Linked DNA regions of Homo sapiens. The protein of the gene in region 2 interacts with the protein of the main gene of each other region in a biochemical or structural test. Each region holds a gene or a part of one and is shown on either strand. Other genes may lie near its edges. The genes, in order: TEC, FBXO7 and CAPN5.

Region 1 (3,653 bases), on a different chromosome or scaffold from region 2:
AGCCAGGGTGACAAAGTGAGACTTTGTCTCAAAAAAAAAAAAAAAAGAAAGATGTCAAAAGAAAAATCTGAACAGGAGCTCACTCTGCTGTAGTTCTTTATCAAGAAACTACATTAATGCAAAATTCTCTAACATTGCTGGTTGCCTTGCACACCTTACTGGGCCATGATTACTCAAGCAGTAGAGAAATGGCACAATGGATAGGAAGGCTGGAGTTTCCTGAGGACATAAGATGCCTTCCCGGGTCACACAAAGTTTCATAAACTCTAGACCAGGTACTGAGGTCAAATGTCATTGCACAGTTACATAACAACTCTTCCATGTTTTGTTACTGATCCTTGGAAAGTTTTCCTATAGACATCCAATAAGATGAAATGAGGCTCTACACATTACCAACAAGAACACAGTCTCTGCAAATGACCTGTCAGGTTCTTCTAGTTTTATCTGACCTATAACTGGGTACATAACATGGCCTCAAGCATTCTGGCTCTTCTTGTCCTCACATAACAGAGACACTGTAATTCTAAAAGGTCAAAAAAGAGAAAAAATGGAAACTTCACATTGCTAGTGAGTTATTTTATGACCTTCTAAAACTGATGAATAAAAGCTAGAAATCAGTCAGGTGTGGTGGCTCACACCTGTAATCCTAGAACTTTGGGAGGCCGAGGTGGGAGAATCACTTGAGGCCAGGAGTTCAAGACCAACCTGGCCAACATAGCAAGGCCTCATCGCTGCTTAATTTTCGTTTCAATGAGCTGGATGCAGTCATATGCATCTGCAATCCTAGCTACTCAGGAGGCTGAAGCCAGAGGCTGAAGCTCAAACCTTCTATTTAAGCCCAGGAGTTCGAGGCTGCAGTAATCTATGGTGATGGCACCACTGTGCTCCAGCCTAAGCAACAGAGCAAGACTCTGTCTCTAAAACAAAAAAAAAGAAAAAAAAAATCTAAGTGTCCAACAACTGGGGAGTGGCTCAAAATACCACCGTATGCTAACATGACAGAATTACCCAAAGAAAATTATGCATGGACTAATTACAACGTCATAAAGTAACTACCTGTGTATAAATAAAGATTGTAGAATTTGGAGTTACATAAACAGTTGTAACATAATGCTCCTTAATTATTTTCTAGAACATTGCTAAAGATTTATTAAAAGTCAGCTGGTAATAGAGATGACTGGAAGGGGATTCACAAAGATTCTCTCTGGAATGGTTTTAGGGTTATTTTTAATTTCTTCTTTGTAAGCTTCAGTATTGTTTACATCTTCTAACAAGGAATATATAAAACTCTACAAAATGACAATTTTTTTTTACTGATGGCAAGGAGAGTCCAAGGAGCACACCAGGTGTCTGAGAACCTCGGTGGCACCCAAAGATCAAACTTTTGCCTGGGGGAAGCAAGATGGTGTGTCAACAGCTCTGAGCCTAAAAAATGTCTTCTGGCTAGGACTCCAGAACTTATGAACAAGAATTATTTCATGCAATGCTTCTATAACTGGTTTAAGTATGTGACAAAGACACTGACAATCCTTAAAAAAATTCAAAAGCATGTATACCTAAATTTACATGTCTGACAGCATTCAAACCCAGTTAAATTGTATTTCTGTTTCCCTGCATGGTTGAAGGATCAAGCATTTTTATCACCCAAGCAGGAAAATGAAGAAATCAACTGCCTTCTACAAATCAAAAATAACCCTAATAGTAAAAACTAACTTTGTTGCATGCTTAAATCATATTGGCAGAAAAATGAAACTTTAAATCACTCTTGTAAGAAAAAAAGCCAGTTTCATTTTTGGGGCAGTCATATGGAAATCCCACAAGTCGTGGTTGAAACATAATATTGAGGAGTATGTGAGGACATTAAGAGTTTCTAAGGAAATAGTAACAAAAGATATCATTGGAATTCCATGAAGGATAAGAGAAGAAAAATCAAAGGTTTTTCCTACTAAATCACATTATAATGTCACCAAAATTAAAAATAAAAGGAGTAGGATACTTGACAGGGAGTTTCACCTTGTAAGTATCTCATATAGTACATGACAAGTTAAAGTCTGTCGCTTTGATACTCTATTGTAAGCATTTCAAGGTTAAAAGCTTTAACCTTGAAAAACAAATGACATATAGTTACAAAAGGCAAAAGTATATATTGTAGAAATCCAAACAAAAGTGTTCCTCCTTTAGAAACATAAAACTGATGAGATAACATAATGAATACTTACTTCCCTCCCTCCTCCAAAAGCCATTCTTTGTAGCCATAAAAACTAAGATAATCATAACACTATGCTAAGAAAAAATATACAGATGGAAAATAATGATAATAATGTATGTTGTCCTTTCAAGAATGTTTTCAGTGAAGAATATTTCTAAATAATACAAGAAACAATACACTTGAGAAAACTTAAATTGAATGCTCTATATTTCAATCCATATATAGACAAGTGATGTGAAAGTCTAATCAAGAATTTAGAGAATTTAGATTGTTGAGTACAACTTGGGTAATTGTGACCAAATGTCTCTTTTTTTTTTTTTGAGACGGAGTCTTGCTCTGTTGCCCAGGCTGGAGTGCAGTGGTGCGATCTCAGCTAACTGCAACCTCTGCTACCTGAGTTCAAGAGATTCTCCTGCCTCAGCCTCCCGAGTAGCTGGAATTACAGGCACGTGCCACCAGGCCCACCTAATTTTTGTATTTTTAGTAAAGATGGGGTTTCACCATATTGGCCAGGCTGGTCTTGAACTCCTGACTTCAAGTGATCCACCTGCCTCAGCCTTCCAAAGTGCTAGGATTACAGCCATGAGCCACCACTCTTGGCCCAAATATCATTTTTTCTTAACTATAAAGTGTCCAAAATTGTCTGGAAAATTCATTCAGTATATTAAGTACTTGCTTGGTACTATGCTTTCCCTAGGAAAGAACTTCTGTGAAGACCCAGTACATTACAGAAAAACTATACTGCCTGGAAAAGGGAGGTTCCAATGACTTCAAAGACTTCGTTTAGAAAAGGGAAGGATGCTTGTGGAAGCACAGTGGGAGGAATGAGCTCTGCAGTATCCCTACTAGCCAAGCTTTTGTTCACAATGGTGCCTAGTGGTACCTGCTGAAAAAGCCTTTTTAACCATCTGTCATCCTCCAAAGATAAAGTAATTGTTGCACCCACTCCATTGTCACAATCGCCAGCACTCCTGTTTTCTGTATTGCCAATGCATAGCTGCCATCATGGGAAGATCGAGCTTTGCTTTTTCTGCACAGATAAGATGGCTTAGGAACAATTATCCTCCTACTTTTGTGGAAACTGACTCTTGTCATCATGTGTGTAACCATAAAGAATGTTGATGTTACAAAGCAACTGGGAGAGCATGCTGGAAGTTCACAGCCCATTAAGGGAGCCTGAGGAATGACTCAACTGATGAAATGACGTTGGGAAAGTCGTGATCATCCACAAACGGCAGGGTACATCAGCCCAGCCAGAAACAGGAACTTGGTTCACATTCCAAGGAGGGCACAAGTGGAAAGGGAAGTAAGGGTGCTGCTGCTGGTAAGGCAGTTGTGTGATAAACTGGCCTCCAGAAGGAAATAATGATAACTTCCATTGAGGCCACATGGCCATCAATGACACCAATCCCATCTTTCAGATTAAAATAATATTGGACTTAAT
Region 2 (3,653 bases):
ATTGGTATTTAACCAATATGGAGGGGATCTGTGTTTCATGAAAGTAATTCAATGTCAAGTTCATTATTGAAGATTATTGGAGGAAAAACTACAATCAAAATGTTTGTTTAAACCTATATAAATTTGATGGCTATTTTATACAGATTGATACTTTACCAAAGGTTTGCATTCTAGGTAAGGTTTTGCTTAAACTCTATAAAATTATTAATAGATACAAAGAAGACAGGTTTTCCCTTTTATCATTTTTCAGTTAAACCAAACTGTGAGAGGCAGTTATAGGTGGTTGGAGCAGAAGAGATAAGGTGGAGAGGGGAACTGACATTTTTTAAGTGCCTGTTTCATTCTGTACTTGTGCCTGTACATATGTTATTCCATTTAATCTTCTTAGTAAACTTAGGAGGGTTTTAAGAGCCTAGTGGGAATGTTGTGGTACAATGGGAAGATGGCATTTATAGCAGTCCTTTAGGAAAGGCTGGCTAGATTGACATTGTTGCTTTGAAGGCCTAAAGGCTTATTCTTGTTCATTCCTAGGGGAGATCAGCCCTGAGAGATTGACTTATACTAACTAAAACTGACAGGAAAAGGAGATAGCAGAATACATATTTATAACGGTCTCTGATTGGATGTAGAGTCAGAAATTGGGAATTAGCTGAATTGAATTTTTTTTTTGAGACGGAGTCTTGCTCTTTCGCCAGGCTGGAGTGCCGTGGCGCTATCTCGGCTCACTTCAACTTCCACCTCCTGGGTTCAAGCAATTCTTCTGCCTCAGCCTCCTGAGTAGATGGACTACAGGCGCACACCACCACGCCCAGCCAATTTTTTTTTATTTTTAGTAGAGACAGGGTATCACCATATTGGCCAGGCTGGTCTCGAACTCCTGACCTTGTGATCTGCCCGCCTCGGCCTCCCAAAGTGCTGGGATTACAGGCATGAGCCACTGCGCCCGACCGAGTTGAACATTTAATGTCAGACTAGGCCAGAGTTTCTCAATCTTTTTATTCTCACTTCCCAAAGGAGCCGTTGGAGATTTTCCCCTCAATCTCTCTCCTTCATGAAATTTCATACCACAAATATAGTATGTTTTATTTATGTACTGTGACCCTTTGAAGGATCACAAACCAATATAATAGTTTTTCTTTTTAACCCGTCAAGGACCAGTTTTTGCCCCTGTTGGAAATGCATAAACTGGACTGATGAATTGGTATAGATGGCTTTTATCATGAGGATCAGAAAAACTTGAAATTCCTTGGCTACGACACTCCATATTTATCACCGTATAGGGAGGACCTTGTTATGGGGAGTAGAAACACTCTACACTTTACAGCAGTAGAGGTTTTATGCCCATTTTATAGATCAGGAAACAGATCTAGAGGAGGCTCACTTACTTAAGGGTCACAGAGCCAATAAATGGTGAAATACAGGATAGGAATAGATTTGGCTGACTCCCAGCCTTTTAAAACAACTTTTACAGGAATGTAGCTCAGATTGTTATTCTTTATCTGGTTTCTCTTAAATAAAGAAAAATGAAATGGAAGGGAGGAGGAACATTAAATACTGTTAAATTACAAGTTTATGGACTGTTATAATGAAGTATTTTTAATAAAGTCTTATGTTGAGTAGGAATATGCTGCTCATTTGGCAAGTCATTTTAATGAATTTTTACTGTGGTTCATAGCACCTAGTAACTATAACTAGGCACTGTTATTTATCCTTTTATTTATAAGTTCCTAATTAAATAGTTACATACCAGGTTGCTGAAGGAAAACATTCATTTAAAGAAAATCAATTTTCACATTTGAAAAAAGCCCTTGAGCCAAATTGATTTTAAAGAATGATATCTTGACAGCAAATTTCAACTCAAGATTGCAAGTCACACAACAAAGATTTAGACATTAGCTGCATATCTCTTTCCTTCTTCTTATCGATCCTGTTATACTGAGTGTTTTATTTGTTATAGATAGTGAAATACATAAATATGAAATGGGGAAGGAGCAAGCATAAATTGCCTACTGATACCCTAGGCACTGCTCGTGGAGCTTTCAATTATAACAACGCTTATCTGGTGTAGTGGTGGTGTCTCCTTTAAACAGTTGAGCAAAAAGGTGAGGATCAGAGGGGCAGGTTATTTGTCCAAGGCTATACACTTGGTAAATAGCAAAACAAGTGGGAACCTCGGCTGCAGTTTGCTAGTGCGTCCGTACTTTACTATGAGTCACCTGGGGATCTTATTAAAATATAGGTTCTGATTTGGTAGGTCTGTGGGGGCCTGAGATTCAGTAGTTCTAAACAGTTCCAGGTATTGTCAGTTCTGGTGATCTGTCGCCCACATGTTGAGTAGCAGTGTGGTGACTAAAAATGAGTGCTTTTGAGCCACACGGACTTGGGTTTGTGCACTGTTCTGCCACTAACCATGGGGCCTTGGACAGGCTTTCTGTACCTTGACCTGTTTTTAAAATGGAGATAGTAATTAGGAAAGAACTTCTGATGTGAAAGCTTGAAAAACGCTTGACACAGGTGCTGATACATAGTCATCATGCGATAAATGCTATTAATTTACCAGGTTCTAAGCGTTAACAGGAGCAGTTCTCCACTGTATCCTTAGTGCCCAGAACAGATTGATAGCTATCAGGAAATCTTCGTATGTATGAATCTCTCACAAGTCTTTTCTACAACTGCAGCCTATGAGCTAGAGAGGTTGGGCACAGCTCTACTAATTTGATATCATGGAATTTTTAGCTTTTATATCTAAGATTCAGTTTCATCAAGTCTTGCACTGTACTTCTTCCATGAGGGAATTTGGTTCATGCTTATCTTTGTGAATTATTTGTGAATATTTATTCACCATGTTGATTGGGTTTGGCAGAAATAGAGGACAGTTTTTTCACTTGATTTTGGGTTTTGATTTTACTTTAAAAAATATTCTAGGGGAAAATGTAGCCAACATATACAAAGATCTTCAGAAACTCTCTCGCCTCTTTAAAGACCAGCTGGTGTATCCTCTTCTGGCTTTTACCCGACAAGGTAAGAGATGAAATACTGTCACAATTTAAATGACTGTAAAGAATAGTAAGTATACTTAATATTCTTGGTGAGTATGACATCTGACTGCCCTCTTTTCTGCTCCTGGCGAAATGTTCCTCTTCTAAGACTAAGCTTAATATTCCTTAAGTGCTATTTACTTTATCTTTGTATCTCCATGCCATTTTGTACATATTTTTATTGTAGTCTCTTTTCCATGGACTATAATTGTTGATATGATTTCTTTCCACCTAAGGTTGGGAATACCTTGAAGGTAGGGAATATATCTTACTTTTGTATTCTTGTGGTCTAGCATGAGGTCAGGTACATAATAGATGCTCTTTCTCTCTGTGTAGATACATATATATATGTCTATATAGACATATATTTAGATATATATGTCTATATAGACATATATTTAGATATATATGTCTATATAGACATATATAAATAATACATGGTCTGTAATTGGATCTAAGTTTTTTTTTTTAAACCATTTATTGGAGGCTCTTTGCAGGCACTTAGTTGGATATTTCACATGCATTCTTATTTACTGCTAATGACTTCGAAGTAAATTATGTGGTACTTATTTTATAGATGATGAAATCATAATTCAATAAGGTTTATAATTCACT
Region 3 (3,653 bases), on a different chromosome or scaffold from region 2:
CCTGCCTTGCCTTGGTTTCCCTCAGGGCTGGGCTGGAAATTGTGGCCTTTACCCCAAAAGGATTGCACTGTTACCCTGGGCAGGCCCCAGGAAGAGTAGATCGGGGACTGTGGAGCTGCACCGCAGCCCAGATGGAGTTTGAGGGATGGGGGCGTGGATCATAAATGGGGTGGTCACTCAGGTGCTTGGCCGTCCGAGCATCTCTCAGCGCACCTGATATGCAGGCCCTGCCAGCCGCTGTTCCTTGCCCTGCCCTGCCCTCCACTCCCAGAGGCCTTCCCTGACCATGTTGGTCCAGTCTGTGTCCCTTGCACTTGGTCAGCACATTGGTGCAAAGTTCAGGGTGCTTGGCTGGGCCCACCTGGGCCCCTGGGGAATGGAGGGAGGGTTAAGGAGCCATGGGCCTGCTCTCTACAGAATTAGAGACGCCTATTCCCAAGATGCTGTGAGGAAGGCAGCATGGTGCGGGGAGGACCGGAGAGAATGAATGAATGATGCTGAGAGGGGTACCTGGGGCAAGGTTTTCCCACACCAGGCAGAAATGTGCCACTCTCTAGAGGTGGGGAGGGAAACCCAGAGGCACACGCTGCTTTCCTGTGGGAGACACACCAGCCAGGGAGCTGGCAGGGCTGGCCACTGGTCTGATTCCGTCTGAGGAGGTGTAGGGAAGGCTGGTCAAACAAAGGAAGGCAGGGAGGTAGGTGCGGTGTGGGCCAGGCCTGAGCTCTGTGTGGCCTGTGGGCCTGGTATCGCCTCTGAGCTTCAGAAACGAGAGAATCCAGTCTATGGAGTCAGGCCGGTCGGTGTCTGTCCCACTCTGCTGTATACCAGCTGTGTGACCTTGGGTAGGCTCCACGCCTCGCTGAGCCTTCCGTGCCTGTGCCATGGGGCTGATGATGTCCGCTTCACAGGGCACATCAGGGACCCAGGGACTCTGTGAGTGACCGTCTTCTTGCCTTCCTGTCCAGGTGTTCCCCCTCCCCTCCCTGGGGCAGCAGCCACCATGTTCTCGTGTGTGAAGCCCTATGAGGACCAGAACTACTCAGCCCTGAGGCGGGACTGCCGGCGCAGGAAGGTGCTCTTCGAGGACCCCCTCTTCCCCGCCACTGACGACTCACTCTACTATAAGGGCACGCCGGGGCCCGCCGTCAGGTGGAAGCGACCCAAGGTCAGTGTCTGGTCCCAGCTGGAGCTGGGTGAGCGGGCCCAGGCCCACCCACAAGGCTGGGCCTGCAGGGACATCGGGGTGGTGGGAGGAGGCATCCCTGGCCCCAGGCTGCTGAGAAAGTGAGGGTGCTGAAACGGTGGGATTTGATCCGGATGGGGAGCTTGGAGAATGGGCTGTAATCCTGTGGCCACCACTGGATTGGTTGAGGCCCAGCCAGGCCTTCACCCTCTCAGGGCCTCCACTTCCTCACAGGAAAAATGGGGCAGTAACCTCAGCCCCGCTGAGGGTCATTTTTGGAATAAAAATGGGGTGATGTGGATATGACCATTTTTGATAAAATGTAGATTGACATCCAAATGTAAGGAATTTACTTTCCTGATTGTTATCATCATGATTTTGAAATAGTCATTTGTGGTAGAAATGAAAAGTATTTATTATGATGATTAATCAATAATAATAATAATTGTAAAAAGATAGTAGTACCTACCTCATAGAGTGGTTGTGAGAATTAAAAGAGGTAATGCATGCAAAATTCCACTCACAGCCTGGCAGCCAGTACGGGACCATGGATACTGATAATGATGAACAGGTGGCGTCTCTCCGACCACTCCTTTTGGTCCCTGAGGCTAGAGTGTGTTACACAGAAATGTTTGGCCTCCTGGTGTGATTTCATCCCCTTGAACCCCGATTCCTGGGTGTGAGGGTGGGCTGGGGAGGGGTTCGCTGCTTGTCTGTGGGTCCTGCAGAATGGGGTCCCTGGTGGCCTGGGTGGAGGGGAGGCTGCAGGAGGTTACTCTCCCTGGCCTCCAGGGCTGTGCTAGTGACACTGAGGGTCGTCCCCTCACAATGCGGGAGACCATGCTGCTGTCTCAAGGATGCTCCAGGCTGGGAGGAGGCTGTGACTCCCGCAGCCCAGTAATCAGAGGAGGTGTCTTGGAGGTGAAGGGTGATGAGGTTTTTGCCCAAAGGGCCAGGTGGGAAAAGGCAGAGGGAATAGAAACTCACAGGTGGGAGCCCCTCAGGCTCATGTGGGCCTGTGGAGAGCCATGCCTGGGGTGGCAGATCTGGGGCCAAGATGCTCGACCTTGCTCTGTGAGTAGTGAGGTCCCGCGAAGGCAAAGGCTTTCAGCAGCCTGTAACAGGGTCAGATTTGCATTTTCCAAAGTTCCTCCTGATCCCCTGGGCTTTTTGGGAAAATGAAATGTAGTTTTCTAGTTTCCCTCCCAGGCTATGATCTCGAGTCCCTTCTGACTGAAAATACCCCGTAGATGTCCTTGGACTGGGACTCTTGAGTGGCAGAGAAACTGAGGCCAAGAGAGGAAGGTGCGTGTCCTAGATCACCCATGAGCTGCTAGCAGGGGTAGTTGAAGAGTCCTGCCTCCCTGCACCCCACCTTCCTGGCACCAGATAAAGGGCCCCTGGTGCCCTTGACCTCAGTCCCAAGAGCTGTAACAGAATCTCTGGCCCTGTACTGACTCTCTGGAAGGCCCAGGAGCCTCCTGGCCTGGCCACAAGAGTTCTGCCTCTTGGGCCCCCTCTCCCACGCCTTCCTCTCTTCCTTTGTCAAGTAGGTGGGGAGGGAGGCCTTGGCCTCAAAGGGCCTTTGTGAGGCCTTGGCTGTGGGGAGGAGGGCTGGGCACTCGAGCTCTTCGCCCTCCTCCCACTCCATCCCCTGGCTACCCCCGTCCTGACTCCCTCCTGCCCTCTGGCCATTGCCCAGACATTTTAGGTCCGTGGCTCCGAAAAGAGGCTGGTGAGGCCTGGCGGGAGCAGGCTGGGCTTGCTGCGGTGAGAGGAGGAGACGCCAGGTTGGCCCGCTTGGTACTCTCCTGCTGCGTGACCCAGGGGAGTCAGCTGCCCTTTCTGAGCCCCTTTCCTTGTGGGTTCAGGAGCCATGCCACACCTCCTCCTCTCGTTGCCTTCCTCGCTGGCTCACTTGGTGCCCTGCCCTTTCTAGACACGCAGAGCTGCCCTGCCCTGGATGTGGGGGCAGGTGACAGAGAGCGTATGGTGGCTGGTGTTCAGAGAGCTGTGTGAGTGGGGCCCAAGGGGCAGCAGTGATGGGGACTCAGACCAGGCTGGGGTGGATGGTCCACGGCACTGCCTGGATTTCCTAAACCATGTGTGTAGGCACTGCCTACTGGCTAGCCACAAGCCTGCAGGACAGGCAGCCCCTGCCCCACTAACGGGATGGGAGGTTTGTGGAGCAGGAAGTCAAGCAGGCTTGGCTCAGCTTGCTTGGCGGGCCCAGCCCAGTGGGTTATCATTAACGCCCAGCTGCTTGCCAGTGAGAGGGAACTTTGGCCTCAGGCAGCCTTGTTTCGATGGAGTCTTACCTGTGACCGCCTGTTTACAAATGAGAAGTCGTGCTGCATGCCCGTCCATCCCCTCCAGCTCCTTCTCTGAGTTGGTCCTTATAGTGGCTGCTCTGTTCTTAGAGGGTCTCCTCAGCCAGCCTCCCAGCCTCGCTGCCTCTCAAATGGAA

Evidence for each region.
Region 1: of the proteins of FBXO7 (region 2) and TEC, one has a biochemical effect on the other in vitro, tested with the Homo sapiens proteins (one large-scale study listed by BioGRID).
Region 3: of the proteins of FBXO7 (region 2) and CAPN5, one has a biochemical effect on the other in vitro, tested with the Homo sapiens proteins (one large-scale study listed by BioGRID).

Annotation. Positions count from the first base shown.
Region 1 is NC_000004.12:48,259,686-48,263,338, forward strand, and holds part of TEC (tyrosine-protein kinase Tec), read right to left. Parts: intron 1-3,653.
Region 2 is NC_000022.11:32,488,161-32,491,813, forward strand, and holds part of FBXO7 (F-box only protein 7), read left to right. Parts: intron 1-2,925; coding exon 2,926-3,021; intron 3,022-3,653. UniProt on the Homo sapiens protein: Substrate recognition component of a SCF (SKP1-CUL1-F-box protein) E3 ubiquitin-protein ligase complex which mediates the ubiquitination and subsequent proteasomal degradation of target proteins and plays a role in several biological processes such as cell cycle, cell proliferation, or maintenance of chromosome stability.
Region 3 is NC_000011.10:77,083,884-77,087,536, forward strand, and holds part of CAPN5 (calpain-5), read left to right. Parts: intron 1-968; coding exon of another isoform or gene 969-1,003; coding exon 1,004-1,168; intron 1,169-3,653.